Linked DNA regions of Homo sapiens: regions 2, 3 and 4 are each linked to region 1. Evidence: fine-mapped expression QTL. A gene starts in region 1. Each other region holds a variant in brackets. All regions are shown on one strand. Distances are between the middles of the regions. Region 1 holds the start of CDO1 (cysteine dioxygenase type 1). Region 2 has its middle 29 kb from the start of CDO1. Region 3 overlaps LOC124901048 (a long non-coding RNA gene). Region 4 has its middle 60 kb from the start of TMED7-TICAM2.

Region 1 (8,113 bases):
AGAGAAGGTATCTATATGTGTATTACCATCCTAAAGTTACACTGTATATAAAATGTTAACATTGTGTCAATTTACAGTGCTCTACCTGTGATTACCTTCCAACATTGGTGGGAAAAAGTTAATTGGATTTGAGGAAACAAAGGATTTATTTATGCAATCTCAGAGTGAATAGTATTTAAGTATATGAAGCAGTCGTGGTTACAGGGTTAATTAAAATATATGTATCTATATACATTTTGGGTATTCATTTCATCTATTGAATTTTATTAATTTATATATGTACCATAAAAAGAATTTGTTTCCTAAATCCACAGAGTCTAGTCCCACTCTGGACATAATGTGCTTTCAAAAATATTGAGAGAATGAATGGAAACACTTCATTCCATATGAGTAAATAAATGCACTCTACAGACCTAACTTTCCAAACACTTATAAATTCATGTTTTCTTTCATAAAAATGGATCTAAATTATTGCTTTTACCATTCTCAAGACTGAGAAAGGTATGTTTCAAAAGAGAGTAATACTTAGTTGATAATAAGACTGTCAAACGTGAAACTAAAGATAAATTAAGGAGCTAAGTTTCAAAGAATCAGTATAAGTTGCCTTTTCAGTAAAGAAACTAAAGAATTAACTTGAAGTAGAAAGAAATTTTCTGAATTTGCAATGCTTTTCTAGCTTCAAATCTCCATCCTTTGGTCTTTGGTCCCACGATTGTTTACACACCTCAAACACCACAAATGTCAAGTGTAAACACAATTTCACATAAAGTTTTACTGCACAGAAAACAGAGTATGGTTAACTTAAGGGGGTTACTTACCTCATTTGATTTACTATTCATTTTGGGGGCTGGTTTTAATATGTGTAGTGTATGCCTGAATGCCCTGTGCTAATTCCATTGATAATTTTTGTTGGGATTAGGGAACATTGTGAACAAGTAAGTAGAAAATGAGGGCTGGGTGTGGTGGCTCATACCTGTAATCCCAGCACTTTGGGATGCCGAGGTGAGTGGATCACCTGAGGTCAGGAGTTCGAGACCAGCCTAACCAACATGGTGAAACCCCATCTCTACTAAAAATACAAAATTAGCCAGGCATGGTGGTGCATACCTGTAATCCCAGCTACTCAGGAGGCTAAGGCAGGAGAATTGCTTGAACCCAGGAGGCAGAAGTTGCAGTGAGCTGAGATCATGCCATTTCACTCCAGCCTGGGCAACAAGAGTGAACCACTGTCTCAAAAAAAAAAAAAAAAAAAAAAAAAAATGAGATTTGTTACTACTTGTAAGACCTGTGGCTAGCCTGGTACTATATTTTTCATATGCTAGAAAACATGCTCTAATAAATATCTGTGAATGAATAGTTATTTTACCTGCCATGTCCTTCACCCCAACAGAGAATCATCAGATTAAATTTTCCATTTCCTTGATCCACAAGATTTCGGGTATACCTAAAAAAAAACAATATATTCAGAAGTTTTAAGTTCGTTGCTGAAACAAGCACTGGAAAAAATAAGTGTGTCACCAAGTACCATTTATTCACAAATGTTAACATTTCCACCTCTAAGCAACTTTGAATGCAGTTTTCTAATTAGAAATCCAACACAAATGAAAAATCCTTTTTCACAGTTCATTTTGAACCGCTGCATTTACAGAGGTAGCTGCTCAGTTTTAATTAATGGCACGGGAAAAATAACAGGAAAAAAACCGAAATTGCATGTTTCTCAATGTGACAGCCTCAAACTGATGGAGTAAGTTTCTCAGAGAAAGTATTTCCAAAGTGCATTACTGGTTGAGGCAAGAATGTTGCTATTGTTTTTTTTTTTTTCTTTTTTCTGCCTGTAGCTAAATCAAGACTTGAGAAACAAGGTTTCATTAAATAGCTGTTCTAGAATTCTTAGTTTTACTAAAGCCTAGACACAAACCACATTCAAAAGCCCTTATAATGAAAAGTCTTCCACAAATACCGTGGGGGCTGATCTAACTACCAGAACAAAGAAGACTACATTAGTGAAGTAAAGAACCCTCTAAACCTCTTACAATTAGGAGAAACCAGTAACTGGCAAACACATACACACAGACACACTCACCACAACCAACCACCACCACTGCCACCACCAACAACAAACTGCAAACCACGACCACGACTGTGAAAAAAGCAAAATCAACGTCAAAGTTTCTATTGGTCCAAGGTGTACTGTTGACAGCATCTAGTTAGCAAAGTTTCATAATTATGACATTCATTTAGACTGTCATGTTAAAGAAAAGGGGTCTTTACTCCATTTTTTGGGAGTTTTTTTTCCCTTCGTCATCGGTTAACTCTTGTCCAGCATGCCCCTTCCATCCTGTCCCATTCCTCCCCACCCCGAGGTGTCCGAAGAGCATGATCCTAGAGGGAGTTACTTAGTAAGTGCTTTTTAGCCTCAGTTTTCCCTACTTTGTAGCCTTTATGACCTAACAAGAAGCTGTGTACACAACCTTCAATTCACAGTAAACTGAGTTCCTGCAGAAGGATCCTAATTCTTCCTCCAGAAGTCTTAGGATAATCTTTGTTGCTTCTCTGCAGCTTCTTTCAAAGAATTCACAGCCTGGCCCACACGGGAGCATATTCTGTCTTGATTCTTCTGCACTGGCCCTCCCAAAGTCAGAGAACAGAATCCTTCACAGCGCTAGGCACCTATTTAATGCAAAAAATACTGTAGAATTGACTTCTCTCCCATCTCCTGTCTTCCCCCAACTGCCCCCTCGGGACTACATCCATTATGTTAATGAGCTGTACCTCAGATATCTGTGAAAAGACCGATCAACCCAGCTGGTTGCACTTCAAAAGCTTTAGAGTTTGTCAATCGAGACTAGTTCAAGGTCCTTGAAAATACACTTGTTCTAAAGATTAAAGATTAAAAACTGTTACAACCTGTCCTGGTTTAACAGTGGTTTAGAGTGTAGGCTCTGGAACAACAATGCTAACCCCGGGAGCCTGGAGCCGCTATCGATAGAAGACCTAGTGCAAGTCATTCAACTTCTTCATTGCCTGCCATTCCTCATATGTGTCAAGTGTCTGGAAGAGTACCTGTCCCATAACAAGTCTTCAATTACCTGGAGCAAATGCAAGAAAATTTAAAAGCTAGACTCTCTGCTAGCTTTCACGGCTACAGAAGGGCTCTACCATGAACTAAGCTGATAGGAGCCAAAGGAATTTCCTCAAGTCACTTGTATATGAAAAATGGGATCCTTAGTGGTCTTCACTTTTTCTATTTCAAATCCTAAAATACAGTTGAAACCGCCCATGCCAACAAAACTTTACGAAACATCCCACATGTTGAAGAGTGACTAAAAGAACCTGCTCCCAAGAAAAACAAACTTACTTCTTTCCTTATTCTTTTCTTTCACTTACCCCTTTCTCCTAACCCTAAACCCAAAAAACCACAAAGACTGACGCACTAACTGCTCAGAAAAAGTAGAACCTCTCACACTTCGGGGTGATTAAATTTTACCTCTGGCCCCGGAGGATTGGTAGAGAGATTCGACTTAATCACCAAGCCGGGGCTGCAAAAAAGCCAGCTTACCAGGGCACCTCACTCAAGTACATCTGGGAAGTAGGGGTCTTTAATTTACATTACAGATCGTCAGAAGCAAGGATAAGATAAATCAGATCATTTGGGGGCTGAAAAAAACGACGGTCGAATATTTAATCTGCGAAACTTGGCAGTGGATTTGAATAAACCCACAGTCGGGGAAGTTAGTTAAATTGGTTTGGGAAAGGGAACAGCAGAAATTCCGTAGTGGCAGCTGACGGCCACAAGACGCTATTTTACATGAGTAAAAATGCTTGCTATAAGGTGCCCGGTTGCAGGCGACCGAAGGCGCAGTGATGGAGAACTGACGCGGGTGACTTGTCTTCTTCAACATCACACACTTCTCCCGATGGCTGATGTAGTGCTCCCCTGGGAGCACCCTCTGCTAGTCCGGCCAGACGGTTCCTTAAGGTGTCAGGAGGGCCCGAACCTGAGTGCGGTCTCTCCGCATCTCCGCGCCCGGGGTTAACGATGGCTTGGGAGTGTGGGCATTGCTCCCGAGGCCAGGGGCAGGAGGACTGGTGGTTTAGAAGCAGAGGGGTTTGCGGGAGAGAAGAGAACAGAAAATCTCGCAGACGCGCGGTGGCCTCCCTTCCCGGCGCCTGTCCGCCGTTCCCGGCCGGAGGTCAGCAAGGCCAGTAGGATCCACCTTCCGCCTGCGCTGTGGCCGCGGAGCCCCAAGCGAGTCGTGCCAGCCCCGCGGCTGGCCAGCGAGGGGGCGAGCGGCGGACGCAGCGCGGCCCGAGCTTCCCGAGCCAGTCACTTTGGGCTGCGTCCCCCACGTCCATTCCTCCTCAGACGGGGCGAGTGGGCGCCGCCTGGCATTGAAGCTGCAGCGCGCTCACCTGTACTGGTCGAACTTGGCGTACATTGCCCACTCGGTGGGGTCGCTCTCGTAGGCTTCCATGATGGCCTGCACCTCCTCTACATTGACCTCATCGCCGGCAAAGAGCTGGTGCAGGATGCGGATCAGATCAGCCAGGGTCCGTGGCTTCAGCACTTCGGTCTGTTCCATCTCGTGGGGAGCTGGCTGCGCGCGCGTCTCACTGCTGGGCTGCGGTGGAGGAGCTGAGCGAGCCAAGGAGCTGGGGGCGAGGGAGCCTAACAGCCCGCTAGACCGCTAAGCAGACACACACGCACAAACCCAGCATTAGAGTGCCGAAACGTAAGGATGTCGTCGCAGAGACAGCAAGAGACCCACCCCCAGGCCCCTGGCAGCGCAGTGGATCCGGGATCGCTGGAGACGCGGTGCACACACAAATCAGGTTCAGATCTGTGGGGTTCATCCTCCCGGGCCCCTTTTAAGCGCTTGGAGTCACTAGGAATGTACCAACGGCCCTCGGAGGGAGGACGAGGCGGAGAGCCACCCAAGAAAGGTGGCGGAGGCGGGGAGACCCTGCGGGCACGGCTCACGCGCACATCCCCGGCTTCCCCGGGCTCCGCGCCTTCCCAAGAGCCCCGTTGTCTCCGGCGTCCCAGGGATCGCGTGGGCTCCGCGCAATCTCTCCCCCACTTTAACGGCGCGTTTTAGCCGCCCGGCCTAACGCCTCTCCCCGCTCCACCTCCGCCGCTGTGGTTCGCGACGCTGGGACGTAGACAAAAAGGGTCGGAGGAGATGGCTGCGGGGACTGACGCTGAGTAAAGGAGGAAAAGAAAAGGGAAGGAGAGGGACACTTCTTCCAAATAGAGAATTGTGAGGAGCCTGCGAAAATTGAGGATGGATTCCACTCCTAGGCCAGAGAGTGCCTGTTTTGTCGATTGAAACTATCCACGATATGCCCCAGGCTAGGTGAAAATAAGTCCAAGACTTTATATATATATATATTTAAGTATACACACACACATATTTTTTAAAATGCGTACTGAAATATATTTTGACAAAGGAGACTCGGGTCTCTAGTAAGACAATTAGTGAAATGATGGAAAACCAAGAACTCTTTGATTTTAAAATCAAATATTTTCTTTTAAAAAATATCCAGTGCAAATAACCTGATATTTCATTTGATGGTGTAAAAGGGGGCTTTTTCTGAGGGGATAGGGCGGGCTCTGACGCAATAATTTAAGAGGCTATAATTATATTTGAATCTTTCAACCTTAGGCATGTGCTTGAAGGAGCCTGCTAGTACATACATATAAGGAAACACGTTTCTACGTCATGCATAGCACCTAGTACGTTGGGAACAACACAAATCAAGTACAGTAGGATTTAAATGAGAAAGATGTGAAAGGTGGAAGAAATGCAAGTGTAGATTTCTTCCTTCTCATTATGGATGGACGCAGGGAATAATTTGGATTTAAGGTTATTAAAGTTCTAGACTTCTGAAGACCTGTTTTTTTCTAGACTATGATCACCCTCCCTCGTGTATATACATGTATACAATGAAATTTACTTGTGCCAGGTAGTCTTAAACATCTCTGGTAAAACTCGCTACATTATATTCTAACAGTGTTGTTAAAAGCGGAATCACCTATTGTTCAAAAATGGCTACAAGTAGAAAGCATTCCAGAAGCCAGCCTTGGTGATGTGTGTTGCTGCGGGGTAGTGAATTAACAAAGTATTTTGTGACAGAGTAACCTGTAAACTTTTCATGGTTTCCTCAAATTATTTTTTATTCTTGGCAATGTTTTCTATTGAGTCTCTTAATTACTTCATTTCAGCTAGTCTAATCCATAAATGTTTGGAATGAACAACAAAAATGAAATGCAAGCACAATTTATCTTTTCTGCATTTCAGTTGATAAAACTTCTAAATTTTTCTGACAATTCATTTTCTTTCTCTGACTCCTCTTTTTCTTTTTACATTTTTATGAAAGTAATATATTCACGTAGTTAAAAAAAATCAATAGTACTGGAAGGTCAATGAAAAGCAGCAGGCCCTTTTAACCATTCCTGACCATCTGTCCTGTGCTTAAAGAGTCAGTCTCTTAACTCTTCTAACTATTCCTTGTGGTAGTTACTTCCTTTTTCCAAAAATAGGCTTATATTTTTTTTTGTTTCAGCAATTTTAGATATTATCTAGTCATTTTACATTATGATAGCTCCATTCGTTTATTATTCATTCATTAATTTATTCAACAAATGTTTTTTCGGGTGAATAGAAATTTTCATTTCACCTGAGTAAATACCTAGGAGTGAGATTGCTGGGCCATTTAGTCAGTGCATGTTTAAATTTGCAAGAAATTGACATACTAATTTGCAAAGGGTCTGTGCCATTTCACATTCTCAACAGTGATGTATGAGTTCTAGTTGCCCCGCATCCTCGCCAGGTATTGTCAGTTTTACCAATTTTGGCCAAATAGAGGTGTGCTGATATTGCATTGTGTTCTTCATTTTCTATATCTCTAATTCTTATGGGCAGGTCTTTGTTCTTAGAGCTCCCAAGATGGTGGCCACCGCTCCCAGGATGGCAGCAAGCCTTTTGTTCTCTGAACTGGGGTTCTTGGCCTCATGGATTCCAAGGAATGGAACCTTGGACCATGCGGTGAGTGTTATAGCTCTATTAGAAGCCGTGGGTCACAGAAGAGAACCGTGGAACCCAGCTACTAGTGTTCAGCTCAAATAGGACGAACCCGGGCACTTAGCCATGCAGGAACAATGGCAAGCCTTTAGCCGGATCGGGAGTGGCAATGGGTGCCTCGCTGGATCAGCAAAGCAGCGGACACCCTGCCGGATCTGGAGGGGTGGAAGTCGGTGGCGGGTCTGTGACAGTGGCAAACAGCAGTGGTGAAAAGCGAGCGAAAGCTCAGCTCGAGCCATAACAAACACAGACCAGAAGAGTGTGCAGTTGCTAGATTTAATAGAGTGAAAACACAGCTCCCATACAATGCGACGGCACGCAAAGAGGGTTGCCACTCCCTGCTTTAATGCCTGGGTTTATATCCGGATCATTGTCCCTCCCCCATGCTCTCAGGCGATATATTATTTGACTATTTCTTTACCTCCTGCTTTAGCCTAATTTGTATTTTAGTGAGCCCTCTTTACTGCCTGATTGGTTGGGTGTGAGCTGAGTTACAAGCCCCGTGTTTAAAAGTAGTTGCAGTCACCTTTCCCAGCTAGGGCTTAGGAATTCTTAGTCGGCCTAGGAAATCCAGCTTGTCCTGTCTCTCATAATGACTAATGATGTTGAGCATATTTTTATGTGATTAGTTATTTGTAAATAATTTTTGGTGAAATATCCAAGTATTTTGTCCTTTTAAAAACTTAATTATCTGTTCTTATTGTTGAGTTTTAAGAGTTTATTATATATTCTAGAAACAAGTCAGATGTGTGATTTGTATATATTTCCTCCCAGTCTGTGACTGGTCTTTTGTTTGTTTTTTTGGACAAAGGTCTTGCTGTGTCACTGAGGCTGGAGTGCAGTGGAGCCATTGGCTCACTGCAGCTTTCAACACCTGAGCTCAGGCAAGCCTACTGCCTACGCCTACTGAGTGGCAGGGACTACAGGCGTGCACCACCACACTTGGCTGATTTTTTATTTTTTTGTAGAGATGTGGTCTTGTTATGTTGCACAGGCTGGGCTTGAACTACTAGGCTTAAGTGATCTTC
Region 2 (8,113 bases), 28 kb before region 1:
GTTTACATCTGTCCATTCTTATATTAGGGTTATTTACTGAGTTTTGCAGTTTCTGCGATCAAAAAATAAAGACCAAAAAACCCAAAATTATATAACATTTTTTCTAATTGCCTATCTTGTTGCCTATGAATATGCAATGTCCCTCTTCTATCACACTGAGGGTATTAATTACAACTATTTTGGAGTCTTTTCTGTTTGTTCTATTTACCCTGTTTGAGTTTGCTTGTTTGTTGAGCTTGGTGCCTCACTTTCCCAGTGTTCCTCAAATGTTTGGTGATTGGTAGTTGTGTTCTTATCTTTGTACCTGTGGTTCTGTATATACAGGTCTGTGGATTCCACTGCAGTTGACTACAGCTTGCCTCCAGGGACATAAACAGATAAAAGATGTATAACTTCCTATGTGGGGTGGGATGGGACTTGTGGCCAAGAAGAGGTGTTCCAACCATTGCCTTCTGGGTGAGAGGTTTTCCCACCCACCTTGGAAGCTGACAGCCATGTGGTAGCACTGCTTTGTCATTTTATCCCCAGGCCCCATCTAGGGTGTCAAACAGCTGCAGCCCACTGCTTTGTGCACCCAAGAGAAAGGGGATGGGCTGATTTGTCCAGAACGTTTATCAGTATTATAACTATATTTGATCTCCATTAGGAGACCTGTGAGAGATTTCTTAAAGCCCCCTTAAAAATACTTTTGCTTTATGATTTGCAAATTGCATTAAGCCACGTCTAAAGAAATATGAAATTTTCAACTTGTTGTTTAAAAAAGGCAAAACTAGCCCTTAACTACATTCCTGGTAATGTTAATTGATCTCACAGAGGGAAGGTGGAATTATGCCTTTGAATAAAGCAAAACAGGTAAGCAAATGCAAAAGGGTTATATGCTAAGTCAGACCTTATTTTAAGAATTTTTAGTGGGAAATTATTACCATCATCGGCAACACAATGAGTAAAAGAAAAACTAAGTGCCCCTTAACAGAATAGATCTTCAAGATTTCTATGTAATTTGAGGAGAATAAATGAGAGACAGAAAAAAGGAATAAGCTCAATTTAATTTGATGTTTTTAGAGAAACCAAGGTCGTTCAAATGATATTTTTTTAAAAACTATACAAAGAAAATCTTATTACTGTTACATAAAACGTTTAATGTTTGTGACAACTAGAATATTGTGTTTGGGTAGGGTTGCCAGGCATTATTTGCATACAGGGCATATCCAGTGTCCTGTATTGACTTTGTCAGAACACATTAAATGCCCTGTATTTGGCTTTTCCCCCCAATAAATTAGAAAAATTCAGCAGCTAGAGCTATTTTTCTGCACCCATAATTAGTACTTAAATTACTTAAATAGCAACACCAGCTAGAAATCATTCTTTTGGAAATAAACATCTGGACAATCCCTCATTGTCTCTCCTGCAGATTTGGCTAAGAGAAGACCAAAAGAGGAAACTGAGAATTAAAAGTACTTATTTTTCATATTTAAGAAAGTAAAAGACTATTTTTTTGGCCACATTTCCGAGTTGTAAATGAGTAAGCATTGTTCATTCCCAGACGACTTTGTATCGACACACAGGCTCTGAAAATCAGCCAAACAGCCATTGCTTCACTCCTATGGCCATGCTTCTCATCATCAATCAGTCAGAAAACAGCCTCCCTACAAGCTTCTGAAATGGAGAAAATCCATAAGAGCCCAAAGCGTCTGAGAGCTAATCAGTCTCAGTAATCTGAGATGCCCCACACTCACAGATAACAGCCAATCGGCAAGGGTCTCCCTCCAGTACCCTTGCTCCAGAGTCAGCCAGTCAACAGCAGCCTTCCTCCAGTGACCACAGTAAGGTAGCTGAAAATCCTTCAGTCTCTAGGCACTTCACTTCTGAAAGCCCGGCAGTCTCTGAATGTCAGGATTCTGAAAACCTACATAAGATCAACTCTGGCTTTGCTCCAGCAGACTATCTTACAAGCACAGTTCTTACTGTGTCTTGTAAGTTATCTTCAAGCTCTTTGGGTAATGAAGTTGTTCATTCAGCATAAAAAAAAAGTCAGCTATAGGCCAGATGTGGCTCATGCCTGTAATCCCAGCATTTTGGGAGGCAAAAGCAGTAGGAACTCTTGAACTAGGAATTTGAGACCAGCCTGGGCAACAGAAACTGTAATGGCTTTCCCTGGTGTATGTCATCATCAATCTTAAAGCTCAAATGACTATCTGAAGGTACTGCTACCAGAGCATTTTTCGATTCCAAAACTGCAAGCAAATATTTAAGTGCCAGGACAAAATCTACAGCAATAATAAAAAATATAATAGCTGCATTTACTCTACAGATTATCAAAGATCTAATGTCTCACCTTTTGTGGCATAGCCAAGTGTGAATAAAATAATCACGATCAGAAAAAAATTTCTTATTTCTTGTGCAGCATTTTTCCTGTAAAAAAGGATTGTTTATAAGACTATTGTGAGTAAAATCTTCCAGAGGAGACTTCAGGCACATTGGAAAATTTTAGTGGACTTTATTAGTGAACTAGGAATTCATGAGATAAATTGTATAGCTTTTGGTGGGGACCATGTAAATGTATGCATACAGGTACAGAAAATGTGTAGTCAAAGTTGAAGCAAAGCATGAATGATTGTATAGAAGATGTTGACTGTCCTGCCTGTATTCTGCATAATGCTGTTCAAATAGCATATGATGTTCCTTCTACTGATATTGTCACAAAATTGTTATGAAATTCTTCTCTTACTTCAGCATTTATGCAGCATGTCCTCAAATAACATCGTTTTGTTCAACATCATTCCCTTGTAACGTTGATGAAAAAAGTTGTCTAAATTGTCACAGTAGGAGTGTGTGTGAGAGCACCCTGCAGTGAGTTGGCATCCTGGCCAGCGTGGGTTCCCACCTATGCCCTGAGCTGCTGGGATAGGCTCCGGCCACCCTTGACTCTAAACTGGAACAATTGGGTAAATAATTATCTTGTTTGTATTAATCTTTCCCAATAGTATGTATAGCTCACATTTATTTCAATGTTTAGTATTAGAAGTGTTTTGGGTCTTTATGCAGAACTTTGATGATGTTTTTGTGACCAGAAACATGCCATAGAAACTTTACTCTTGTTTACACCAATCAGCCTATGGTGAATTAGTTTCATTATATGCAATTCCACTTAGTCACAGTTTCTAAGAACCTATGGAGGACCTAAAGTGAGGACTTACTATACTTATAAGCAGCGTTTTTCCATTCTATCAGATTCAAAACTTATTGGTCTCTTTAACGAATGTATTTGGGAGAATCCTCATATGAAATCATACTTTAATTCTGAAGGAAAGACCCCCCCCCAAATTCTTGTTGAGTACTTAAAAAGTTTATTAAGTAAAGGCTACTTATTTCTTTTTCATATTTTGCAATTACTTTAGCAAGAGGATTATGCAAATTAAAAGAAGAACATTTTTGAAGTAGTTGTTTAAGGAAATTATTAAATGCCTTAGAGAATGACTTGAAAAATTTATTCCTTTAATTATCAAAGTTGTTTTAATTTTATTTTGTTTTTATTTATTTACTTTTCTTGAGACATGGCCTTGCTC[C/T]GTCACCCAGGCTACAGTGCAGTGGTGCAATCACAGCTCACTGCAACCTCTGCCTCCTGGGAGCTCAAGCCATCTGCCTGCCTCAGCCTCCTAAGTAGCTACAAAACTTGTTTTTAAAAGTGGCAACATTACTTTGAACAAGAAAAGAAATTCCAACTTGGATTAATTCATTATTATGGCACTTATTATAACTATGTTTTGAAATTGATACCATCCCTTGAAGAATTTGATTCTTTTATAGAGATATTATTAAATACACTTTCGACATGGAAACAAGAGGAATCATCATATGTATTGTTGAAGAGGAAGGGAATAAAAATTCATAGCAATGCTCTTTTTTGACATTGGACAACATTTTAAAAGTCATTGATCAAGATGCAATATAATCCTTAAGAATAGAAAAGCAAGTTATGTCACCAAAGATGGTATGTTCTTCAACAAATTAAATTCCAAGAGTACTTACTGGGATTTTAATTTTAGGCCAGTACATGCCTAGAATACCAGCTCGTAATGAGCATGTTTTGTCATTGGTAAATGTTAAATGCACAAAAGAATAAAACTAGTTGGATGGGACCACTGTAGATGACGTGTTAAAATGGAAATGGAGTATAGATTATAACCACAAGGAGTTTTATAAGTAAATTCTGGAAAACAAAGAGCTGTTAAGGAGAGCCATTAGGGTGATAAAATTTTAAAAATGGATATGTAATTTTGATGGTTATTATTTATTTCAGATAAACAAGAAATACTTTTTATAGTAAAGTATGTCTTATGTAATATTTTTCATTTCTCTAAATGTATATATATAGGCAACTAGAAGTAAAACTTAACTGGGCATTCTGTTTTATTATTTGCTAACCTGCAACTGTATATTTAGCTCAAATTTAAGTTTTAGTAGAGATTGATTTTTATGTGTTTTATATATATAGCCATATATATACAGTTTATAATAAATTGGGGCACTTTATATATAATTTTGCCTGTTGTATAAGACTTAGTAATATTGCTTGCCTTTTATTGGTTATACAGGCTTAGCTATTTTAATCTTTGTTCTTACGCAATATCATTAGCAATATTATTCTTTTTTTCAGAATAGCATAGTTTTTAGCAGCTTTATTGAGAGAGAAACATACCATATAACCCACTTACTTGAAGTGTACAACTCAATGGTTTTTATTATATTCATATAGATGCAACCATGGCCACAGTCAATTTCAGAACATTTTCACCATCTCAAAAAAAAACCTGTGCCCTTTTGCTATTTGGTTTTGTCCCCCATCCTTTATACTCCAGACCCCCATTGTTTACCCAATGCCTGTGCCACCATTGTATCTTGGATGTAAATAACTGCTTTTGATCTTACAGACTCATAAGTAGAAGAAACCTGCCTTGAGTCTCAAATGAGACTTTGGACCTTGCACTTTTGAGTGATGCTGGAGTGAAGACTTTTGGTGACCATTAGGAAGGGATAATTATATTTTGCAGTGTGAGAAAAGCATGAGATTTGGGGGCCTGGGGGTCAAATGATATGGTTGGGATGTTTGTCCCCTCTAAATCTCATATTGAAATGTGACCTCTAATGTTGGAGGTGGGTCTAATGGGAGGAGTTTGGGTTATGAGGGCGGATCCCTCATGAACAGCTCAGTGTTGTCCTCATGACGATGAATGAGTTTTCACTCTGAGTTAATGTGAGAGCTGGTTGTTTAAGAATGCAGTACCCCCACCCCCTTGCTCCCTCTCTCGCCATGTGACATGGCTGCTCCACCTTCGCCTTCTGCCGTGAGTGAAAACTTCCTGAGGCCCTCACCAGACGCAGATACTGGCATCATGCTTCCTGTACAGCCTGCAGAATCATGAGTCAAAATAAACCTCTTTTCTTTATAAATTACCCAGTCTCAGGTATTCCTTTAGAGCAATGTAAACAGACGAATACACCCATCTTTATGCACTGCTAATGTACTTTCTATGTTTATAGATTTGCTGATTCCAGACATTTTGTATAACTAGAACCATATAACATGGTCTCCTGTGACTGGATTCTTTCACATTTAGCATAATGTTTTCAAAGTAATCTGTGCTATAGCAAGTTTCTTTTTGAGACAAGGTCTCACTTGGTTGCTCAGGCTGGAGTGCAGTGATGTGATCATAGCTCATTGCAGCCTTGAACTCCTGGGCTCAAACAATCCTCTTACCTTAGCCTCATGAGTAACTAGGACTACAGGTGTGCATCACCACACTCAACTAATTAAAAAAAATTTTGTAGAGATGAGGTCTTGCTGTGTTGCCCAGTTATAGCCAAGTGTTAGTACTTCATTCTTTTTTATGGCCAAATAATATTCCATTGTATCGATGTATCACATTTCGTTTATCCATTTACAGCTGATGGACTTTTGGGTTGTTGCTATTTGGGTTGTTACTTACGGTTGAAATCGCTGGGTCATATGGTAAGTCTATGTTTAATCATTTGAGATACTACCAGCCATTTTCCGAAGTGACTGCACTGTTTTTCATTCCCACCACAGTGTGTGAAGGTTCCAATTTCTCCAAAACCTCATCAGCACTTGTTATCTGACTTTTATATTCTAGCCATCCTAGTGGGTGTAAAGTGGTGTCTCATTGTGGTAACAAGAATAGACAGAATTGTGTTAGCTTCTACTATGGTAATTGCTGTGGAGACAAAAGACAACTTTAACTAAAATAATAATAAACAAATAAATAAGCACCCACTCAAGAGGATTCTTTTAAAGCAAAAAAGGACTTTCTGTGACTATGAAGCATTGTTTTTAAGTTAAATAATCCAGTAAAAAATGGAAAGAGAGGAAAGAAGCAGTTGAGAATCCAATCAATGGTGTGCTAATCAAGTGGAAGAAATATTTCAAAAGAAAGAACAAAACTTCTGATCTATGTAAAGACGGAAGTCACCACCTTGAAAAGGTTTGCTAAATTTCAAGCAGGATTAGAAAAATAAGTCATATGTCAATATCTAGATGCAGCCTAGTAAATTTCTGAATGAAAGGATAAAGAGAAAATCTTACATGCTTCCAGACAAAAGACAAAATCTCAGATTGGCATCAGACTACTCAAATGCAGTGATGGAAGCCAGAGGATGGTGGAATAGTATCTACAGGATGTCAAATGAAAGGAGCACAGTCTAAGAAGCCTACTCTCAGCCAAGATGCCATTAGCCTCTCAGAATAAAAAGCAACCTATGGGTGAATATACTATGAGTTAGATAATATATTCCCACACATATCTTAGCTGAGGCAAACGCTAAGAAAGGAGACCTCAAGCTCAGGGAAGCTCAAAAGAAGATGCGAGAGTGATGCACAATTATATTGTTGTTTAAATATAAATAAATAGTGCTACAGAGATAAGGACTTTTTTATGTCAATGCCAAATAAACTCTTAAAATTGAAGACATATGAGAGAAAAATCTAATAGTAGTGTAGAACTAAAAATACCAAAGGATCTCAGCAAATAGGAATTGGAGAAAGGTGGGAGGTAAGGGAAGCTTAGCATTCAAAAGCTCTTATTTAGTGACTGAAGAAGCAAAAACATGATAAGAATGAGCAGAGGGCAATAGGACCCTTTGGTATCTTGTTTTTATTCAATAGTAGAAAATATTTATTAGGACTATGAGAAATTAGAAAATGACCTCCAGTGGGATGGAAAAGTGAGAACTTCTAAAATAAGAGTCACTAGCCCGGGGAATTTGGGAAGAACCTCTGGAAGTTTAATGCCTAAGGGCTGAGTTTCCTGACTCTTAGCATCTGAATTTCACAGACTGAAATCAGGATGCTTTACTGGTCTCCTGATCAAATTTGTGAGAAAAAACCTGCTAGAGAGGCAAAGCAGCAGAATGCACGGAGCACAAACTTTGGAATCAGATAGAACTTGGTCCCAATCAGAAATCTGTCACTTTGCCACTTGCTCTGAGTCTTTGATTGTCCTTGTCTGCAAAATGCGGATAAAAGCAGCTCCCTCACAGATTGTTGAGAAGATCAAGTAAAATAATATGTGAATATGCAGTGCAGTGCCTAGCACAAGTAGCTGTGCTACAATAGTCATTTTTATTTTATTATTACTCTAATGATGTATTTATTATTATTTATTATTTCTTACCCTAGCCTGTTCAGATACTCTGAGGCCCAGAGGACCAGGTCGGGCTCAGCTGGTGAGTCAGAGGCTTTTATTTCAGCATCCTGACCACTGTATTAGTTCTTCCCTATGTGACTTTGCTGTGCAATTTCAAAGCCACTCTCTCATGCTGAGATGACCCAGGATCATTCTAAAATCTCACCTCCCACCTAGACTGGCTATTTGGACCATTGTTTATTTGAATCATTGAAATATCCTTAAATAAATTTGTTCATTGATTTCTTTACATTTTGTGGGGTGAAGACAGGGTGAAAGAGGCAAAAAGAGGTAATTTCATGGCTATTCTGAAAGAAAGAGGTGAAAATTATTTTGTTAAGTAACAGACTTCTGATTCCAAGCATTTTGGATTTTGAAGTTAAAAGAAATGAGGTTGAGTTTGACTTTCCCAG
Region 3 (8,113 bases), 65 kb before region 1:
GCCCTTGGTGGAGAGGTTTGCAGGCACTGGGATTAACGATTCCCCTCTGGCTGGGGCTGGTTTAAATGTTCCCTCCATGGGTGGGCTCCAGCTGAGTTTAGTTTGGTTTTCCTTTCTGTTCAAACACAGCACTGAGTTCAATGCCTCACAATTGCTGTGTTCTCCCTCCCTAGCTGGAGATGATCTCCACACCACACCGCTGCTGCCAGAGGGAGCATGGAGGGATGGTGTCAGCAATTTGGGACTGTTTTTTCTATCTCTTTAGTGCCTCTTTCAACAATATGAAGTTAAAACCAGGTACTGTGAGTGCTCATCTGATTTTTGGTTCTTATGAAGATGTTTTTTTTTTCTGTGTAGATAGTTGTTAACTTGGTGTCTTTGCACGGGGTTGCAATCTGTGGAGCTTTCTATTTCGCCACCTTGCTCCACCTTGCTCCAACTCTAGTTTTCTTTGATTGAAGCATTTCCTTCTCTTATTTTCCTGAAGCTTACCATCCAGGAAAAGACTCTCAAGATTCAGTGCATTCTCTTTGGCTTTGTCTCTGTCATTTCCCTCAAGAGTTATCCATTTTGTGGCTTCACTGTGCATTGTTTAGGTGTGTTTTTACAAAGGGATTATTTCCCCAATTTGCATTCCAACCTCCAGTAGCCATTGGTCATATCTACATAGATAAGCCATTTAGACCTGAAACTTCATCAGTTTTAAACCAAACTCAAGACCTAACTAATTTATATGCCTCATTTTATTTATATGAATGGTGTCATCATTTCTAGCTACACAAGCTCAGAGTCTCCAAGTTATCCTTGTTTTCTCCTCTCCCTTAACACCTGAGCACTAAACCGTAAGCCAAAGGCAGTTCTCAGGATCCAGCAGTGAGTGAGAGGAGAGTACTGCAAGATATTTTTGGTTACAATTTAGTGACATTTTTATGCCCTGATGATATTCTAGATACACCACAGCCAAGCTACTAGGTTAAGTTTATGCCTGTTCTTCATATCCCCTTTCTTCTCATTTAATTTTCTTTTGCATCCATATCTCCAGTTTTCTTTGAATTCCTTTCCTAGCTCTTTCTTTCTTTGTTTTATCTTTCTCTTTTATTGGTAATCAATCATATTTTTTAAAAGTATTATATTCCCTTTGTCTCTCCCCATCAGCATTAATTTATTGAACAATACCTATTCAATCCTATCTACTTCTCTATCTCTCTATCTATCTCACATCATACTTCATTGGTACTCATTTTCATCATCTTTCTTAATCTTAAAACCATTCCAAAGGAACAAAGACCATTGTATGGCAGACAGGCCCGATAGCAGTAACTTCAGCACATCCTGAAAATGACCCTATGGTCTAAGAAGAATTTGCTCAGTGTCCCAATCTAAGGAATCTAGGAGTGGCCAATCCAGATTCACTCCTTATCTATGAAGGACATCTGAGCCCCTGGCTCATCCCTTGCAATGCAGGCCACACAGGGGATCAAAGCCGTTTGTTTTGGTTAGATTGCGGTAGCTAGGTGGAGGGTGCTAAGTGAAAATGCTATATAAACTGTCTGCTTTTTATAAACGGTAGCGGTTTGCCTGACCAGCCTGCCACCAAAGGCCCATACCTGTATGTAAATCCCCCCAGTAAACCCTATGTCTTGTTCACTGTCTCTTCTTCATCTTCTCAGACATAGTGTCATCCCTACTGGAGTCAATAGGGGTCCAATACAACAACCATTTCCATGTTATTCATTATTTTATCTTGTATCCCATGGTGCCAAGCACTTAGTAGGTGTTCAGTAAGTGTTTGTTAAAGGAAAAAAGGATGGGAGGGAGGGGAGAAGGGAAGAGGAGAATTTGGCTCCCCACTTTGCAGATAGGCAACTAAGACAACAGTCATACAGCCAATTAGTGATGGAGTCAGATTTCTACTCCCCATCTGGTTAAAGTCCAAACCTGTAATAAGGACACTGCTCTTCTGTGTCCCCCACTCTATACTAGGTGCTAAAGGAGAAGACACATATGTAAAAGACAAAGGTTCTGCCCTCCAGGACTATATAATTTAGTAAGGGAGTTAACTACATGAATAACTATAATATAAGTTAGGATATAATTATGGGTCCACAATCTCCAAAATGATTTGTTCAGTATCTAGCTTCTGGGTAAATAATTTTAATGTGTAACAGAATAAAACAAGTTAGTAAACAGTCTCCATATAGAAGGTTCTCCTTTCCCCTGGAGCCTTGTGGTTGCCCTTAAGAACAAGAATCTTAAAATTTAAACAAAGAGGACACTCTCTAACACAAGTCAGATCCAGAGGCTCAGGTTAATGAAGATGCCTGTATAGTTCCGAGACTGACAACAGATTCAAAGTCCTGAGAAACAATTCTTCACTGCTGGCTCATAAAAGCCAAAATAGTGTCATTAAAATGTGATGTAGTTTATTATCTTTCATAAGTTGGCTCAAAAGAGGAAACTTCTTTATGGCTTGGAAAAGATAGAAAGTGAATTCATTTTTAAAAGACTAGAGTAGACAAATAATGTAGTCTCTCGTGCATACCACACCATCTAATTCTCAATACAGTTCCTCCTTTAAGGAAAAATAAATATGAGTATTTATATAGTTCCAGGAAGTATCTTTCTATTACAGGGATGGTGGCTCATGGAACCAAAAGGAAAATATGAGTCACTTGCAAGGGACCTGGTTGAAAAGCTACAGGTTGAGACTTGTTTGTTGATAGGAGTATTTGTGACACCTATGATTTGGACCAAGTGTTTACTCTGAGGATTGAGACCTTGTAATAAGATGAGATTTATATTTCTCCCAGAGTATTAGTAAGGAGATAAGTAAAGATCTCTCTAAGTTCCTTGGAGCACTCCTATTTTATCTTTTCCTCCTTTGGCTGTTGTTTTTCCTTCTGTTAATTTTCAGCAATCTTTTTTTAAAGTGGCCATTTTTTTCAATAATTGCAACTTGGAGGGTTAGATCTGTCCAGAGGTTTATTGGGTATATTTTGGCAGTCCAGACTGGGTGAGTAATTATTTCAGCTGCAGATTCATAATCTTCTTAGCTTTATTTTTTGGTCTAGTCTCTTTCCCTTTTTCATTTTTAATTAAAGTACAAGACAACTTTTCAGCAAGATTAATCAAATTGTGAGTGTGAGAAGTAGCCCAGCTAGGGCAATGTCTCTTTACTATTAGAGCTAATTTTTTGCGTAGCCCATTTATAAACTTGGAGTTCAGGAGAGTCTCATTTTGATGATTAGCAGAACTCACCTCAGATAAACCTGAATATTGTCTAAAAGTCTTTTCAAATCTTTCAAAATATAACACCACTGACTCACCTAGATGTTGTTGACATCGCTGTATTTTATTCCAATCAACTCCCTTTTAGAAGACTAAAGAAATGGTTGCAAGTAGAGCCTTTCAGTGTCACGGGCATTCCTGCAGTCTTCTTTTGAACATTTATGGAAATCCTCTAGGGGTTTTGCCAACGGGCTTTATCTATTCAAGCCTCATTTTTAGCCTTGTTTTTGAAGCTAACATGTAAACTAGTTGATATAAATCAGAAATACCAGGGTCATAAGCTCAAATACTTAAATTCCATAGCAGGGCAAGGTAATTTAGACAGTAAAGGATAGAGACAAAAAGGACCCGAGGGAGGAGAAGGGAAATCTTCTGAGGGAGGAGAAGCTTCAGCAACCATTTTAAATTCAGAAATTGTTTTAGACAGTCTTCTGGGTTTTTTTTCCTGCAAAGAAATAACTTTATCAGAACCTCTTTTGGATGCATTCAAATACCATTGAAAATGACATTCCCAATTACTCTGTTTTATTCTAGTCAGCTTTTTTAAATTTGAACTTGCAAGTAAATTAGTTGAAGTTTTTCAAAGGTATCCCATTTCAGCCATTGAAGTTTTGGTTCTTCCAAGTTATATGGGACCATTTTTAAAAATAATGACAAGGTGTGGTGCCGTAAGTATTGTACATGAATCTAGCTGGAGTCTCTAAAGGTGGATTTTTCCTCAAGGAAGACTTGGTTTTAGATGGCTGATTGTCCATCATTTGCACTTTTCTCTTAAGGACTAAAAGCTAAAAGGGAAAGGTGTTTTGGACTGAGTGTACTGCTTAAGGGACTAGCTCCCCAAGGTGTCACCCTTGGGTTGGTTCTTCCCTTTTATGTGTCTCAATGAAAAACAGGAATTCAGTGTGCTTAAGGCACTGGGAGATCAGTCCCTTATATGTGCCCACAAGTTTAAGCAAATTTCCCTGTATTTTCTTCTTTGGGAATTCCCTGTGGGACCATTTCTTGTCTCGATTGATAAGCTCTGAAACTTGCACAAGTCCTTGGTTGCCTAAGGTGCCTTTGGCTGGGAGGAACAGTGTCCCTTTTCTTCAGGACTTACCACATCCTAATAAAGGTCTTTTGTTAATTATTGGTCACTCAAAAGAAGAATTCTAATTTGCCAAATTGAACCAAACTTCAAAACCTCACCAATTTAAATCACAATTTTGCTTAATCCATAGACATTTACTTTCTCCTATTAAAGAGAAACCAGATTTTGAACTAGAGAAAAGGTTGCAAACTTTAGCAAGTAAGACGAACAAAATCTTAACCTCAAAGATGATTAAAACCACAAACTTGCAAACAACAGAATCTCTAGAGAGATAAAAAAATGAAACTACTACCTTAAAGCTTTAAAGTTAAGCTTCAATTC[C/T]AGCTCCATCCGGTATGGAATCAGGTTGCTTGAATACAGTCTGCATTTCACCTAAGCCAGGGAGATTTGAAACCAGAGAGGAGCCTTACCAAGGGCTTCCCACAAACTCCAGCAAAAGTCAGTTGGATGGAAACAGTTCATGCTGGTACCAGCATGCTGGACTGTAAAGAAAGCAGAAAGAGTCAATGTAGGAAGCTCACTATGGGTCCCATCTGGGTCACCAAAATGTCAATCTGAAATAACGGAAAGGATAAGAATCTAGTTTAAATGAGTTTATTCAAGTGCAAAACTGAGGATGGCCATTTGGAAAATACAGACTCCAGAGAAATGGGGTCAGTGCTCAGAAATTGAAAAGGCAAGGTTTTACTTATATCAGCAGAAAACAAGGATATTTAACAGGATTATATTTCCATACAAGGCTGGTTTATGAGTTACAGCAATTTGATTTGTTATAGCTTGTTCCCCTCCCCACCCCCACCATTTTAAAGAGTATATTTAACATTCCATCTTAGACAATGTGATAATCATGACGTCTTTGCGTTAAGAGAAGAAAGAGGGAAATTAATCTACAATGAAGATCAATAGTTAAGAGTAAATGAGTCATTTCTGGAAACTTTAGTCTTTAAAAACATTTTACAAAATAATATAGGTAAAGGAAAAGGCTAATGTATAACCAGAGAAAAAGAGGTTACAGCTGCCTAGGTTATATACGTCTGTTACATGACTCAAATCCCATAATCACATTCCATTAAGGCCTAAAATAATTTAAAATTCCAACAGCTTTTATTTTATTTTTCTAACTTTTATTTTAGGTTCAGGGGTACATGTGCAGGTTTGTTATATAGGTAAACTGCATGTCACGGGGGTTTGGTGTACAGATAATTTCATTACCCATGTGATAAGCATAGTACCCAATAGGTATTTTTTTCTGATCCTCTCCCTCCTCCCACCCTCCACTCTCAAGTAGGCCTTCGATGTCTCTTGTTTCCCTCCTGGTATCCATGTGTTCTCGTTGTGTAGCTCCCACTTATAAGTGAGAACATGCAGCATTTGATTTTCTGTTCCTGTGTTAGTTTGCTTAGGATAATCGCCTCCAGCTGCATCCATATTGCTGCAAAGTACATGATCTCATTCTTTTTATGCCTACATAGTATTCCATAGGGTGTGTGGGTGCCTGTGTGTGTGTGTGTGTGTGTGTGTATACACACACCACATTTTCTTTATCCAGTCTATCATTGATGAGTATTTAGGTTGATTCCATGTCTTTGCTATTGTGAATAGTGCTGCCGTGAACATACACATTCATGTGTCTTTATGGTAGAACTATTCATATTCCTTTGGGTATGTAGCCAATAGTGGAATTGCTAGGTCAAATGGTAATTCTGTTTTAAGTTCTTTGAGGGATTGCCACACTGCTTTTCACAATGGCTTAACTAATTTACACTCCCATCAACAGTGTATAAGTGTTCCCTTTTTTCTGCAACTTTGCCAGCATCTGTTGTTTTTTGACTGTTTATAATACCAATTCTAACTAGTGCAGGATGGTATCTCATTGTGGTTTTGATTTGTATTTATCTAATAATTAGTGATGTTGAGTATTTTTTCATATGCTTCTTGGCTACATGTATGTCTTCTTTTGAAAAGTACCTGATAATGTCCTTTGCCCACTTTTTAATGGGTTGTTTGTTTTTTGCTTGTAAATTTGTTTAAGTTCCCTATAGAGTCTGGATATTAGAACTTTTTTGGATGCATGGTTTGCAAATATCTTCTCCCATTATGTAGGTTGTTTACTTTGTTGACAGTTTATTTTGCTGTGCAGAATCTTTAGTTTAATTAGATCCCATTTGTCAATTTTGGCTTTTGTTGCAATTACTTTTGGTGTCTTTGTCATGAAACATTTGTGAAGTCCTTCCTGTGTCCAGAATGATATTTCCTAGATTATCTTCCAGGGTTTTTATAGTTTTAGATTTTACATTTAAGTCTTTAATCCATCTTGAATTGATTTTTGTATGTCATATAAGCTAGGGGTCCAGTTTCAGTCTTCTGTGTATGGCTAGCCAGTTGTCCCAGGATCATTTATTGAATGAAGAGTTCTTTCCCCATTGCTTGTTTTTGTCAAGCAATGTGGAAGATCAGATGGTCATAGGTATGTGGCGTTATTTCTGGGCTCTCTATTCAAAGTATACTTCAAATACTTTCATGCTGTTTTGGTTACTGTAGCTCTGTACAATAGTTTGAAGTATACTTTGAAGTATAGTTTGTAGCAATGTGATGGCTCAAGATTTGTTCTTTTTGGTTAGGATTGCCTTGGCTATTCAGGCTTTTCTTTTATTCCATATATTAAAATAATTTTTTAAAATTATGTGAAGAATGCCATTGGTAATTTGAAGGGAATAGAATTGAATCTATAAATTGCTTTGGACAGTATCGCCATTTTAACAATATCGATTCTTCCTATCCATAAGCATGAAATGGCTTTACTGTGGAAGAAATGTGGATTAGATCAGGGGTACCCATTCCCCAGGTCATAGACTGGTATCAGTCCATGGCCTGTAAGGAACTGGGTCACACAGCAAGAAGTGAGCGGCAGGTGAGCATTACCACTTGGGTTCCACCGCCTGTTAGATCAGCGGCTGGCATTAGATTCTCATAGAAGCACAAACCCTATTGTGAAGTGCCAGGGATCTAGGCACTCCTTATGAGAATCTAACTAATGCCTGATTATCTGAGGTCGATCACCCTGAAGCCATCCCTCCACTCTAGTCTGTGGAAAAATTGTCTTCCACAAAACTGGTCTCTGATGCCAAAAAGATTGGAGACCACTGGATTAGATTCACACCTTCCCTGAGGTTTTCTTCTTCATGTTTCTATGTGCCTCTAGACTTCTGTGTACTTGTGTGCTGATCTTGTTTTATCTTATAAAACCCAGATGTAAAAACTCAGTCCTTTCACAATAAATTCATTCCCAGCAAGCCCTTTGTGAGTTTTTGCTGACTTCTCTGAGGGTTTGAGGATCATTCGGGCTTCCACCATCCCAATAGCTGTTCAGCCTTTCTCCTGCCTGATTTTTTGAAAGCTTTGGTGCTAGCCAATGCCTGGCCCTGAGAGGAGTGTAAATAGAATAAAAGAATAAGATTTTCTCTTTATCATTAGATTTGTGTATGTATAGCTATGTATGCTCATATGTGTGTGTGTATATATACATATATATAGAGAGAGAGAGTGTGTGTGTGTGCATGTGTGCGTGTGTGTGTGTGTGTGTGTTTGCTATTTCCCCTGGATATTTAAAAATTCAGGAAGCTATTATTCAAAAGTTAACAGTGGCTACCTCCACACAGTAAAAGCTCAGGTAACTTTTATATTCTTATTCATACTTTTCTGAATTTTCTGGAATTTTTACGAGCATGTACTACT
Region 4 (8,113 bases), 130 kb before region 1:
ATGGCATTACTCCCATTCATGAGGGTTTCAACCTCATGATCCAATTACCTCCTAAATGTCCACCTCCAAACACCGTCATTTTGGGGATGAGGGCTTCAACATATAAATTTTGGGAAGACACGAACATTAACTTCATAGCACGTCGCTATCCTTTTTTTTTACACAACAAAATATCTCAAAGTGTTTCTATTTTTTTAAATCACCCAATCCCTTTGCAAGCCACACATTTTGGATTTCACTGAGACTCCTGAATCCAAGGGATCCTTTGCATTCTTATTTAACTTGTTACTGTCATAAATTTTCACACTCATGACAACTTCCTCCTTCTTGAGACTCTCTATTTCCCCTAGTTTTTTCTAAAACGAAATGCTTGTATCTTCCTTCTTCCTGCTTCTTCCCTTCCTCTTCCTTTTATTGAAATATAATTCATATAACATGAAATTAATCATTTTAAAGTGTATAATTTAATAGTTTTTAATATATTCATTTTATTGTACAACGATTACCACATGTAATTTCAGCACATTTCCATCATCCCCAAAAGAAACCTCATACCCCTTAGCAGTCAGTCTTAATTTTCTCCTCCCATCATCCTTGGAAAATTCTCATCTACTCTCTGTTCCTATGAATTTGCCTATTTCAGATATTCCATGTAAATGAAATTACACGGTATATGTGTATGGTCTTTTGTGACTAGCTTTTTTCACTTAGCATTATACTTTCTAGGTTCATCTGTGTTGTAGCATGTACTGGTAGACATTTCTCTTTAAAGTTGAATAATATTGCATTGTATAGATATGCTATGTTTTGTTTACCCGTTCATCAATTGATGGACACTTGGGTTGAATCTATTTTTTGGCTATCAGATAATGCTGCTATGACATTTGTGTGAATGTTTTCAGTTATTTTGGGTTATACTCATTATTGAAAATAGATTACTGAAGTCTCTGTGAATTATTGTTGTCTATTTCTCCTTTAATTCTGTCAGTTTTTCTCCATGTATTTTGGTCTTTGTTGTTAGGTACTTATAAGTTTTAATTGTTATCTTCCTGCTGGGTTGACCATAAAATATCAATCTTTATCTTTAGTAACATTTTTTTACTGTCAATTTCGTTTCATATCACATAGCCACTCCAGCTGTCTTTGGTTGCTATTTGCATGATACATCTTTTTCCATCTTTTTATTTTCAACCTATTTGTATGTTTGAATATAAAGTATGTTTATTATAGACAGGATATAGTAGGATCTTGTTTTTGATTGGATTGTTTAATTCATTCACATTTAATGTTACTACTGATATAATTGGATTTACATCTGACATTCTACTTTTTGTTTTCTATATGCTTCATCTCTTTTCCCTCCCACTGATCCCCTTAACTGTTTTCTTTTAAGTGAATATTTTTAGTATAACATTTTAGTTCTTTAAAATAATTTTTTAATTTTTTTGCATTATTTTCATAGTAGCAGACTTACCATATGCATTTTATGCTTCAGAATCTACTTCTAGGTTTACACCAACTTAATTTTATCTTCTTCCCCCTTTTTGTGTTATGATTGTTATATATATTACATACATATTATATAATATATAAATGTAATATATATCTATTCCAAGTGTTATCTATCTGTCTATCTATTTATCTACCTGTCATCTATTTATCTGTCTCAGCTTTCCTCTCCCAGTGGATCTATGAACAATGCTGACTTGTCCTGGCATTGATGTGTGACAATGTGCACTCAACTGTAAACCTCTGGAAGACAGAGACCATGTCCATAGTGTTTCCTGCTACAGCCACTGAGTTACCACGCTTAATAAAGCTGAAGCAATAATGCATAGTGGTTAAAAGTGCCACCTACAGTCCAACAGACCTGGATTTACAGTGTCTCTGCTATCTACTAGTGTAGTGACATCCAGCATGTTACATAGCTTCTCTGTGCCTCATTTTCCTCATCTATCTGTGATATTGTAATGCTGTCATGCTTATTACTTGTCTGACATATTGTTTGTGTTCAGAGCTGTTCCCTTTTATCTTATCTGTTGGAGAAGTTAACTGAAGCTTCAGCACAATCTGGCCCATTATTTTACTTTTATGCAATGAATGTTTGGGGTTTTGACCATTTTTTCCTTCCCATTTGGTACCCATTTTTTAACATTAAAAACAAAATGAAACAGAATTAAAGTTTCAGAAAGAAACAAAATTCATAACGAGATCAGTTTTCAGTCGTTTAGTGGTCTTTTGGTCACAGCCAGAAATGCCCAAGCTAAGAGCCCACCTGTGATCACTGACAGCCCCCACCTCAGGCAGCTTGGCTTTCCTCAACCCCGAATCTGGCTCAGGGTCACTGTGTTCTCTAACCATAGAGGGATTTTGTTCCTTTGCTTCACCTGCAAGCAAGCTGATTTATAATTTGTCCCTTAGTATTGGGGGGTGGGAAAAGGACGCACAAGAGCTGACTAGATTACAGCTATTTTTGAGAGCATTTCTCTGTATGTTTAATATTAAATGCTAATGGAGAGAATGCTAAGATGAGAAAATTGCCAAATGTGAGATGCTGTTGTGGAAATCACTCAGAAAGAACCATAGTAATATTCAAAATGAAGATGTCTTCTTCCAGTCTTCTGGTGCCATAACTAAACCAGCCCAATTTGGTAAGTAAAAATTGGGATCTTGTCATATTAATTTGTATTTCCATGACTACTAATGAGGTGGAGTGGATTTCGATATATTTATTGGCCATCTTTTCTCTCCTATTAATTATCTGTTTATATTGTTTGATTCTTGCCCATTTTTCTCTATTGAGTTTGTCCCTGTTGCATTTGTTTGATCACTACTTATGAATATATTCAGAATATTTCTTTTTCTGATCTATAAAATATAAATATTTTTCCTGTCCGTTAACTTTTAACCTTTTCTTGCATCTGAATTTTCCTGAGGATATTGTCAATACTAATTCTAAGTCTCATTTAATTTGCTTCATAACTATATAGAGTATAAGTAAATAGCGTAACTATATTTACTCTCCAGGGCAATTCTGACTTTTGAATTTGCCCTTGGCTGGTTTCAGATGTTTGATGACCCTCTTTTGTGTCTCTATTTGAGAACTCCCTTTTGTCTGTCTAGTTCCATAGATGTATTACCAGGCTTCATGCACTGACTGGGGAGGTGTTGACCATTGGCTGTCTTCCAGATGAGGGTGCTTCCCTGTCTTCCTGGATGTCACCAGCTTTCTGGTATTATCTGCAGCCCAAGAGTCATCACTCTCTTCTCTCACCTAGGAACAGATACCTCTCTTGTTTGCTTCTGGTCCATGGGAATGAGATGGAATGGAAAAAAGAAGCTGATCAGCATGGCTCCTCCTCCCACCATCCCTGAGCAATTACCCTTTTGGTTGCCTCAGGGTCCAGCTGCTCCACTGCCTGCCACCTCTGAGACTGGGGCATCTCAGGATCCCTGGCACCTTTTGCCACAATGTCATTGCAAAGGTTTGGGGTATGGCTCTTTCTGCCTTCTATCTTCCAGGACTTTTTCAGCTTCTGATTCACTACGGCAACTCTAACTGTTTTGTTCCAACACAGGTATAGAGTTTTAAAAAATTATTTTCTCTTGTCATGTCTAAAAATTTGAAATACAAGACAGAGACTCCTTTGCTTTACACATTTGCTTCACTATTTCCTTCCCTCGATCACCTGATAGTTTTATTCTAATCTACTGGTAACATCCTTTAGGCATTGGCTTAGGTGCTGAGATGGTCTGTGGCTCTCTGAAATTATAAAGCAAAATTTTATATATCTGTAAACACTTGCATTTTCCTAGAGCGTAGGCTGGTAATTCTTGTTTTCAAAGAAAGCCATGAATCAAAGAGGCTAATGATTGCACAAAAACAAAAGACGGTAAGACAATGATTTCACAATTGTATAAGTCTTGCCTGGAATTTTAGATTTCCTTTCAAATTCTATTTTAGGATCTGATTACTTTTGATCCAGGGAGTAAAAAGTGAGAATCTGCTACGGCCTCAGCTGATTTTCCACATAGGTTTGGAACTGCTTTATGGGAATAATCTGTGTAATCACTTTTAGTCAAACCAGAAGAGAGAGGAAAGATAAGAAGTTAAGAATCCAGTCAAGGTAAGCCTGAGCCAGCAGCACCCTAGAATCCCACAGCATGCACTCAGCCCCTACAGTGGCCAGCAGCCAGGTGCTAGTTGCTTTGCCTTCTCAACTCTTTGTTTCCCTTGGCAATGACTTCTTAGAGAGGTCCCCCTGCAGAAGTGATTGCAATTGCAAATTAAGAAAATGGATGAGAGAAAATAATTATTTTCTTCCATTCTCCGAATAAGGCATGAGGTTAAGCATATGAGAGAACAAAATAAACCAATTCCAGCATGTAAATGATCAGCATCTATTTTAATAACTACACTTGGGATTCTGTAAATATAATGAATAGTAGTATATGGCTTTTGGAAACCATTTAATGGATCCTTATCAGCAGCCTACAGACAGGATCTGAATGGTCACAGCTTTGGATAATGGGACACAATTTAGGAATTGAGGGAAAAA[C/A]CAACTTTGCTAATCTCTAGAACAATCAAGAAAATGTGTGGAATTTATAAATAACAGTGGAGGGAAAGCATGAGCTGCCAGAAAGCTGCTATTCCTCTGCTTGGCTTTTAGCAGAGGCTGAGGAATTTGCTTGGGTTGTTTGGGAAATTCTTGTGATACTTATAATATAATCAGGCAGAGGTTTTCTTTTTTTAATATATTTCTGCTTGCCTGCCAAATGCTAATGATTGCTGGATGCTAATTGTCTACAGCAGTTGTTAAATGAGTTTCCCTTCACATCTCCTCTGGGGGTATTTATAAAAGGGTAAGGAATCTATCAAGAAGTATGCTGTAGAAAGCAACAAATCCCCAATCTCCTTTCTACTCTGGAGGTACTGAGTTGAAAAGAGGCCAGGGATCTTCAGGCTCCACTTATTCCTGACATCACCCAGAACCTTGGCGAGGTTCCAAAGTCTTCAGGGTTGGAGGTTCCAACAACTCTGGGCTGGAGGTTGACTAGGTCCGGGAAAGCTTTTGCAGCCCGAAGACTTCTGCCTCTCTTACCTACTTCTCGGTATTCTCCATCCCTAACCCCTGTCAACCACTAATCTGTTTTCCATTCCTAACACGCTGTCCCTTCAAAAATGTTATATAAATGGAATCATATAATACCTAACCTTTTAGATTGACTTTTTTCACTCAGCATAATTCCCTGGAGAGGCATCCAAGTTGTATCCCATTTCAACAGTATTCCATGGTGTGTATGCACCACAGCTTGTTTAGTGACTCACCTATCCAGTTTGGGTTGTGATGAATAAAGCTGCTGTGTGAACATAAGTTTCCATTCCTTTGGACTGAATGCCCAAGAGTGCAATTGCTGGGTTGTAAGCTTTAGTTTTATAGGAAATTGTCAAATTATTTTCCAGTGTGGTTGTACCATTTTACATTCCTACCAGCAGCAGTTGGATCCGGTTTTTCCATGACCTGGTCAGTGTTTTCACTGTGCTTTATTTTAGCCATTCTGATATGTGTGCCATGACATTTAACTGTGATTTTAATTTTTATTTTTCTTATGGTGAATGATATTGAACATCATGTATGCCTTTTGACCACTTTCTAGTTGGATTGGTTGTTATTAGTGCTGAGTTTTGAGATTTCTTTTTATGTTCTAGATAACTGGTCCTTTGTTGAATTCATATAACTTTTAATATGTTGCTCAGGAAATACATGATTACATTTTCACTGTGAAAATAATATAATATTTAGCAACAAAATTTGAAAGTCCCCCTCACACCCTGCTATGTAATTTCACTCATGCCACTAAGGGTCACCTTTTTTCCCCAATTTTTAAAAATTATGTTAAAAATACACAACATAAGATTTACCATCTTACTCATTTTTAAGTGTAGTTCAGTGGTATTAAACACATTCATAATGTTGTATAACTATCAATACCATTCATCTCCAGAACTCTACCATCTTGTAAAACTGGAACTCTAGTAAATAACAACCCCCTTTTGCCCTCTCCTTTTATTCCCTAGCAATCATCATTTTACTGTCTCTCTTATGATTTTGATCACTCTAAGTTCTCTCATATAAGAGACTGTGACCGGCTTGCTTCACTAAGCACAATGTCCTCAAAGTTCAACCATGTTATAGCATATGTCAAAATTTTCTTCCTTTTTAAGGTTAAACAGTATTCTATTCAATGCAGATACCACATTTTGTTTATCCATTCTTCTGTCCATGGACACTTGGAACACTTCCATGTTTTCACTAGTGTATAATATTTGGTGGACAGACACAGAAGTAGAATTTGTGGAGCACACGGTAATTCTATTTTTAATTTTTTAGGAACTGCTATACTGTTTTCCACAGTGGCTGTACCACTTTATATTGCCATCAATATAGTATTTTATATTGCCATCAATATAGTATTCCAATTCATCCACATTCTCACCAGCACTTGTTTTTGTTTTTATTTTTGAGACAGAGTGTTGCTCTGTCACCCAGGCTGGAGTGCAGTGGCACGATCCTAGCTTACTGCAACTTCCGCCTCTAAAGTTCAAGCAATTCTCCTGCCTCAACCTCCTGAGTAGCTGGGATTGCGGGTGTGCACTACCATGCCCAGCTAATTTTTGTATTTTTAGTAGAGATGAGGTTCCCCCATGTTGGCCAGGCTGGTCTCAAACTCCTGACCTCAGGTGATCCGCCCACCTCGGCCTCCCAAAATGCTGGGATTACAAGCATGAGCCATCTCACCTGACCTAGTTTTCTGTTTTATGATCATAGCTATTCCGATTGGTATGAGGTGGTATCTGATTACAGTTTTGATTTTCATTTCCCTAGTGATAAGTAATATTGAACATCTTTTCATGTCCTTTTTGGCCATTTGTATCTTCTTTGGAGAAATGTCCATCCAAGTTCTTTGCTCATTTTTGAACCAGGTTGTTTGTTTTTCTGTTGTTAAGTTTTAAGAGTTCTCTATATATTCTAGATATTAATCCCTATCAGATATATAATTTAAAAATATTTTCTCTTACTCTGTAGCTTGCTCTTTTACTCTATTGACATTGTCTTTTAATGCACAATATTTAAAAACTTTATCAAGTCCAGTTTGCCTACTTTTTTGTTTCCTGTGCCTTTGTTGTCATCCAAGAAAGTATTGCCAAATCCAATGTTCTGTAGCTTTTACCTTATGTTTTCTTCTAAGAATTTTATAGTCTTAGCTCCTAAATTTAGGTCTTTAATCTATTTTAAGTTAATGTTTGTCCATGGTTGTAGGTAAAAATCTATCTTTATTCTTTCACATGTGGATATCTACTTTTTTCAGCACCATTTGTTGAAAAGACTGTCTTTCCCCAGTGAATGGTCTCACACTATTAACAAAAATCATTTGACCATATATGCAAGGGTTTATTTCTGGGCTTTCTATATTTTACTCCATTTGTCTGTCTTTATGCCCATATCACACTTTTGATTATTGTAGCTTTGTAGTAAGTTTTAAAATCAGGAAGTATGAGTCCTCCAGTTTTGTTCTTCTTTTTCAAGATTGTTTTGACTATTCAGAGTCTCTTGAGGTTCGATATAAATTTTAGGATAGGTTTTTATATTCTGCAAAAAATGTCATTGGGATTTGGATAGAAATTGCATTGAATCACTTTGGGTAGTATTGATACCTTAATATTAAGTCTTCCGATTTATGAACATGAGATGTGTTTTCATTTATCTGGCTTCATTAGTTTCAGCAATGTTTTGTAGTTTTTGTTGTACAAGTCTTTCACTTTCTTGGTTAACTCCTAAGTATTTTATTCTTTTTGATTCTATTGTAAACAGAATTGGTTTTGTAATTTCCCTTCCAGATTGTTCACTGTTAGTATATAAAAATCTAGTTGATTTTTGTGTGTTGACTCTGTATCCTGTGACTTTACAAAATTCATTTATTAGTTTTAATTTTTGTGTGAAATCTTTATAATTGTATACATATATAAAATTGTATCATCTGTGAACAGAGATATTGTTACTTCTTCCTTTGCAACTTGGGTGCCTTTTTTTCTTGCCTAATTGCTCTGCCT

The links.
Region 2: its variant is fine-mapped to the expression of CDO1 in whole blood (INTERVAL, PIP 0.94).
Region 3: its variant is fine-mapped to the expression of CDO1 in blood mononuclear cells (TOPMed, PIP above 0.99). The same link has a PIP of 0.9 or more in whole blood.
Region 4: its variant is fine-mapped to the expression of CDO1 in lung (TOPMed, PIP above 0.99). The same link has a PIP of 0.9 or more in transverse colon.

The regions. Positions count from the first base shown.
Region 1 is chr5:115,811,815-115,819,927 of GRCh38, forward strand. It overlaps CDO1 (cysteine dioxygenase type 1), which reads right to left and starts at 4,845. Exons shown (of 5, transcript NM_001801.3): 1 at 4,414-4,845; 2 at 1,367-1,444. The coding sequence starts at 4,583. LOC124901049 (a long non-coding RNA gene) reads left to right here and starts at 5,274. Exons shown (of 2, transcript XR_007058908.1): 1 at 5,274-5,357.
Region 2 is chr5:115,784,016-115,792,128 of GRCh38, forward strand. No RefSeq gene overlaps it. Among named protein-coding and RNA genes, the nearest start is that of CDO1, 29 kb to the right of the region's middle. The variant C/T (reference allele first, on the strand shown) is at 3,567.
Region 3 is chr5:115,746,531-115,754,643 of GRCh38, forward strand. The region is part of intron 1 of LOC124901048 (a long non-coding RNA gene); the gene reads left to right. Among named protein-coding and RNA genes, the nearest start is that of CDO1, 66 kb to the right of the region's middle. The variant C/T (reference allele first, on the strand shown) is at 4,700.
Region 4 is chr5:115,681,526-115,689,638 of GRCh38, forward strand. No RefSeq gene overlaps it. Among named protein-coding and RNA genes, the nearest start is that of TMED7-TICAM2, 60 kb to the left of the region's middle. The variant C/A (reference allele first, on the strand shown) is at 4,560.